Regions from separate parts of the Homo sapiens genome. Here region 2 is linked to region 1. The links come from fine-mapping of genetic effects on gene expression. A gene starts in region 1. The other region holds a variant in brackets. All regions are shown on one strand. Distances are between the middles of the regions. Region 1 holds the start of LIMD2 (LIM domain containing 2). Region 2 overlaps DCAF7 (DDB1 and CUL4 associated factor 7).

Region 1 (2,896 bases):
TTCACCATGTTGGCCAGGCTGGTCTTGGACTTCTGACCTCGTGATCCACCTGTCTCTGCCTCCCAAAGTGCTGGGACTACAGGCGTGAGCCACCGCCGAGCCAAGTTCCCTTTTTTTGTTTGTTTTTGACGCTGGTCATCAGTTTCCTTTGCTTCTGGATGCCTTCTGCACCTTGCTGTTGGGGCATCCTCAATGCCCATCTGCAGCTCAGCCCACAGGCCCGTCCTGGGCAGGGTGCCGGGGCCTCACCATGCCCAATGGCAGCAAGCCCTGCTCCTAGTACCCCCGGGGCTTCCCGTTTCTTGCATCAAACAGCCCCTTTGGAGAATCTGATGACAGGTGTGGAAGCTTTCCCGAGAGGCAGCCACTTTAGAGGGTCTGACGCTCCCCACTAGAGAGTCGGCCCACAGTGCAGACAAAACGCAGATCTTCCTCTAGAGAGAACAGAAGGCTGGAGAGGAGACGCGGAGCCGGTCCGTGGAGTCCGCCAGCCTGGGAAACAGCTGGTCGCTGGGGAAGCTGCAGCCTCCCTGCTCCCCTGCCAGGCGTCGGGCGAGAGCTGTTCTGTTCCCTGACAAGCGCGTGGGCCGCCAGTGCTATTCCTGCCACAGTGTGGGAAGGCGCTGGGCTAAGGGCTGTGCTTCCCGGAGCTGCTTCTAGCCTGATTTCCGGCCAAGCCACGCAGTCCCTGGTGCCCGGGAAGGCGCCGGCCTCGCCGCCGCTCCAAAGCGAGTGGCCGTCTCTCGCCGGCTGTGCCTCCGGCCTGCTGTGCGGCTGCAGGGAGGGAGCAGCTCTGCGGCCCAAGCTCTGTCACCTCAGCTCTCTGGGCCGCGGCTCCCACGTGAGAAATGAGGTGCGCTTGTTGGAGAGGGGGCCCCCGTTGCTGCCCACAGAATTCCGCCCCAGAAACGCTTGAGTACGTGGAGCCTCGGGGGACGGGTGCTCCGGGAACCACGCATACCGGCCTCCCCAGCCCGTCGCAGGGTTGCAGAGGCGCCGAGGGCTGGGGGGGCTGCCGGGGCTGCCGGGCCCTCGTGCAGGCTCCTCCCCGCAGCCTCGCGGCCGGGCCTGGAGACCGCGTGCCCGGACGCCGCCGCCAGCCTCGTGGGCCGCAAAGGGGCGGGGGCGGCCCCTGGCGGCGGGAGGACTCGGCCGCCCGAGGGACCCCGGGCCAGGCTCCGGGGTCGCCCCGGCTGGGTCTCTGCGGCCCCACAGCTCTGGGCGGGGATGGGGGCGCCGGCGCCTACGCGCGAGGCCAACCGGGGGAAACCGAGGCAGTGAATGGCCCAGGCCCCGCCCGGTTATCCCGGAGCCAGGCCGGGAGCGCCCAGTGTCCCGCGACCGCAGCCGCCGCAGCCTGAACTCGTCCCCTCCCAGTAGGATGCGGAGCGCGGCCCTTCCATCCTGTCCCTGCCACCGTTGCTTCCCCACGCCGGGCCGCCGTCGGGATGGGCAGACGGCGCGGCCGGTACCCGAGGCCTGCGAGCGCGAGGCCCGCGGGGCGCTGCGGAGCCGGGAGCGCGGAGCCGGGGCGGGGGACAGACAAAGGCGGGGACGGCGGCGAGGGGAAGACAAAGCGCGGAGGGGGGTCGGCGGCGGCGCCGGGGCCCCGAAGGCGGCTCCGGGCGCGGCGGAGCCAATGGGCGGGCGCGGGGCGGGGGCCGGCGGGGGCGGTGCAGCGATAAGGCGGTGGCGGCGGCGGTGGCTCGGGGACCACTGGTAGCGGCAGCAGCTCGCGCCCGCGCCCTCCTCGTACCCGTGCGCCCCCGGAGACCGATCCCGCCCCGCGGCCCAGGCCGGGCCTGGTGAGAGCCGCGGGGGGAGGGGCCGCGTCCGGCTCCGGAACCGGGAGAGGCGCCGAGGGGTGTGGGGTGAGGGCCGCCCGTGGGGTCCCGGCGAGTCTGCGAGCCGCTCTCGCCCGGGGCGCACAGGCTCGAGTCCTCGTTTCAGGGCCGGCCCCCGGCTGGGCGGAGCCGAGACCCGCTGGCGGGGCTCGCGGCGTCGGGGTCTGGGGTCCGGTCCTCGCGGGGCCAGGTCGGGGGCCGAGGGGCGGGGCGGGCGGGGACCTCGGGCGCTGTCCAGGGGCTGCGCAGCCTAGGCCTGGACGCCCGGGCGCGGCGCAGGGCAGCGAGGGCCGGGGTCAGGTCGGGGCAGCGGCTTCTCATCGCGGCCCCGCCGGCCCCGACCTCCCCTCACCCCAAGCGGTCCCAGCCCGCGGGACGCACACGGCGGCTGCGCGGGAGCCCCCGGCCCCTCCGCTCCCGCTAACTTTGTTCTTCCGAGGGACGGTGCCACTCGGGACCCCGGCCCCTGGGGAGCAGGGGTGGGGGAGGTGGGTGAGGGGCGGAAGTGGCAAGACCAAGAGCAACAGGAAATGACTTAGGGAAAGTCCCAACCGCAATCCCCCCAGCCCCTGCCTGTCAACACCCCCCACCCTGCAGGCTGGGGCCGGGCTGGCGGGGCCCTCCCGACTGACTTCCCCTTGCAGAACCCAGCGGGTGCCGCTTCTCCACCCGAGGCTTCCACCTCCAACGAGCCATGTTCCAGGCTGCAGGAGCCGCCCAGGCCACCCCCTCTCATGTAAGTGCCCGGCTGGGTGGGAGGGCCCCCCGGACAGGAGCCTGGCCTGGGGTGAAGGGGAGAGGCATCAGAGTTTGCCGGCCCCCTTTGTGCCCTGCGGCGCGCCCCTGGGCCTTGGGCTGATGGCTGCAGCCCTGATCCAGGGCCTCCCGGAGCTGCCCCTGCCCTGACCGCCCCTCTCCCTCAGGACGCCAAAGGCGGCGGCAGCAGCACGGTGCAGCGCTCCAAGGTAGGGGCCTGGGGCCGGGTGTGCGGGAGGAGGGGTGTGAGGGAGCGGGATGAGCACTGGGGCAGCACCTGGCTGAGCTTCCCGCAC
Region 2 (2,896 bases), 120 kb after region 1:
TATCAATATGTATACCCCCCAATGACAGCTCCTGGTAACCCTCAGGGACAGAGATCCCACAGGTGCCATGGGCAGCGTGGCTGAGTGTGTAATGCTCTCTCGGCTCTAAGTGACTGCTCCTTCAGTGCTCCGCTAGCATGGTTCACTGGGAAACCAAGGGAAGGTGACAACTCCCAAGTACACTAAACCCTCTTCTACACTGATCTGCCAGGTATCAATGAGAGCCTTCCAAACAAGTCTTTTCCTAGAGAAAGGTGGACTGAGAAAAATCAAAGGTGCTAGAAAGGTGCTATTACTGTTTCTCTAGAGCCACTATCCTTTCTCAGGTTTATTCCTTCAAGACAAGGCTGCCGGTCCAGGCCTGTCTGCTGTCAAGATCCATTCCTGGCCTTTCTCCCTGCTCTTCTTCTCTGTGTCACAAGAGAACTGATTCCTACAGCGTGCATTTGGCAGGGTCTCAGATCTGCTGGCTGCTTCTGGCTGGTTCAGCCATGGGAGGCTTTGGTGGGAAAATGGATGATGGGAGGCAGGGAAAAGCTAAGGTATTTCTCCTCCCCTCTCTCTGTTCCTAGAAGCGTCTCTGCCAGGTAAATCCAGCCCCTGGGCTCCAGGAACCCTGCCTCCTCCCATGGTCCCTCTGGCCTATAGGCAGCTGCAGCTTCCTGCTGCTCCCATTCTATGGATGACCTCACTGCTACCTATGTGGCTTCTCAGCTTTACCATCTTCTGTATAAGCAGCCCCTGGATTAAATCCCTGCAGTTCAAATACTTAAGAGTAGTTCCCATTTTCTGGGTTGGACCTAACAGACAACAGCAGGCTAAGTTGTCATATAACTAAAATGTAGCCGCTTGTTCAACTTGATGCCAAGAGGGTTTCCAGAAGTTCCTTACTGGTCCTCTCTGTGGGACAAACTCTTCATTTGACCCCTGGTTTAGCAGCAGTCAACTCTAGAAGTCTTGTAACAGGGCTTACCTTCAGGAGTACAGAAAGCCAAAGACAACCCCTTACTAAGAATGATAACCTGGGTCACATCTTCCTATGCTGTTGACAACCTCAAGTTTCTGACCTAAGATCAAGGCATTCCTTTTATCTGTATAGATATTAATACCCCTAGCTGTGCAGGGTAAGGTAGAAAAGAACAGGAAATAGTACCCACAGGAGATGAGAGTACCAGGAGCATGCAATGGCTGTAGGAGGAAAAGACTTATGGGGATTTTCCAAAATCACTGAGAAGAATGCTTTGATTAAAATGCAATTGGCCGGGCGCAGTGGCTCACGCCTGTAATCCCAG[C/T]ACTTTGGGAGGCCAAGGTGGGTGGATCACCTGAGGTCAGGAGAGTTCGAGACAATCCTGGCCAACATGGTGAAACCCTGTCTCTGCTAAAAAATACAAAAATTAGCCAGGGGTGGTTGCGGGCACCTGTAATCTCAGCTACTCCGGAAGCTGAGGCAGGAGAATTGCTTGAACCCAGAAGGCAGAGGATGCAGTGAGCCCAGATTGCGCCATTGCACTCCAGCCTGGGCAACAAGAGGAAAACTTTGTCTCAAAAAAAAAAAAAAAAAAAAAAAAAAAAGCAATCACAAATAGCTCTTCTCAGTTTTCCCAATAAACACAGAAGCATCGCCATCAAAATAAAATATATTCCATTGCCTCCACTGCCAACAGTAATGAAAGTATAAAGATTAAGTGAACATACTAGGATTTGGTAAAACATTTATAGAGAAAAATGAATAATTACGTTTGTCTCTCAGAAAATTTTTTCTCTTCCTGTCTCCCTTCTTTCCTCCCCAAATCTAATCTGTTTCAAGATAAGTATTACTCTAAAGTTATTTTTTAATCACATCAGTTCCCAGCTCCTCTATAAGAGACTTTGTTATTTAAAAAAAGCAACCTCTGGCATGAAAAGAACAATGACAGACCGTAGAATAGGTCATTTACATTAGCCAAAAAAAAGCATTAGTTTACAATAGTGTTGTTTTCCCGTTTTTGATACATTACTATTGTCAATTTAGACAAGAAGATGTTATGTTATGATTTTCTACATAAATTGCAGAACAATGAGAGAACAAGCTGACCTCTTCCTGTGCGGAAGGCACAGGAAGCATTTGAGGAAAGACGAAATGGAAAAGCATCTTACCTCTTTGTCATGGGCGATCAGCTGGGTCTTCACGTGGCCAGACACGAGATTCACTCGCCCTAACACCTGCCCTGTCTCCAGCCCCCAGATGGTGCATGTCGTATCAATGCTTGAGGTACCTGCAAACAACCAGTGCAAGTCAGGGCTGACGGGACCAAGGTTCTCATGCAAGCTTCCCTCTTGTGTTTACTCATCTGCTCAGCCCAGGGAGCAGCATACCATAAAGACTACAGAAAACAAGGTGGGGGCTACCGGCAGAGCCACCGAGGCAGTCAAGTCTTCAGTCCTCACCGTAGGACCTTAGATTCTAACTGGAGAGACAAGATCTATACACACGGAAAGCTCACCCACACAAAGGAATTAATAAATAACCACATTCCACGCCTAGCCTACTTCCCACTGAGCCTTGTTCTAGGATGTATGGCCCAGTGTGACATCTGAGAAAATTTATTTTGGCTTCTTCCAGCTGAAATACATACTCCCTAACTCCCTTACCTAAAAGATAAGGATCCACCTCATTCCAGTCAAAGGAGGTCAGGGGAGCACAGAAATCAGAGTTCTTATTATTGTTTAGCAAACACTCCAGCCTGGTCTCTGTTTCACCAACCTGAAGGAACAAGAATTTTAAAAAAAATCAGCCAGTCTTATCCTCATAAAAAGTCTTTTAAAAAATCCCTGTTTAGAAAATATCTTAGCAAACATAAGACATGAGGGGAAAACATTTTTATCAAAAACAGTAATAAACCCAGGACTCCCTGAA

What was found. PIP is the estimated chance that this variant, and not a neighbour inherited with it, causes the effect.
Region 2: its variant is fine-mapped to the expression of LIMD2 in whole blood (TOPMed, PIP above 0.99).

Annotation. Positions count from the first base shown.
Region 1 is chr17:63,698,941-63,701,836 of GRCh38, reverse strand. LIMD2 (LIM domain containing 2) reads left to right here and starts at 1,712. Exons shown (of 5, transcript NM_030576.4): 1 at 1,712-1,805; 2 at 2,489-2,580; 3 at 2,768-2,809. The coding sequence starts at 2,539. It overlaps LOC729683 (a long non-coding RNA gene), which reads right to left and starts at 1,499. Exons shown (of 1, transcript NR_046273.1): 1 at 1-1,499. RefSeq lists enhancers at 234-333, 129-713, 714-1,299 and silencers at 1,004-1,963, 2,054-2,513, 2,604-2,833.
Region 2 is chr17:63,579,184-63,582,079 of GRCh38, reverse strand. DCAF7 (DDB1 and CUL4 associated factor 7) reads right to left here. Exons shown (of 7, transcript NM_005828.5): 3 at 2,632-2,743; 4 at 2,137-2,255. Among named protein-coding and RNA genes, the nearest start is that of TACO1, 20 kb to the left of the region's middle. The variant C/T (reference allele first, on the strand shown) is at 1,293.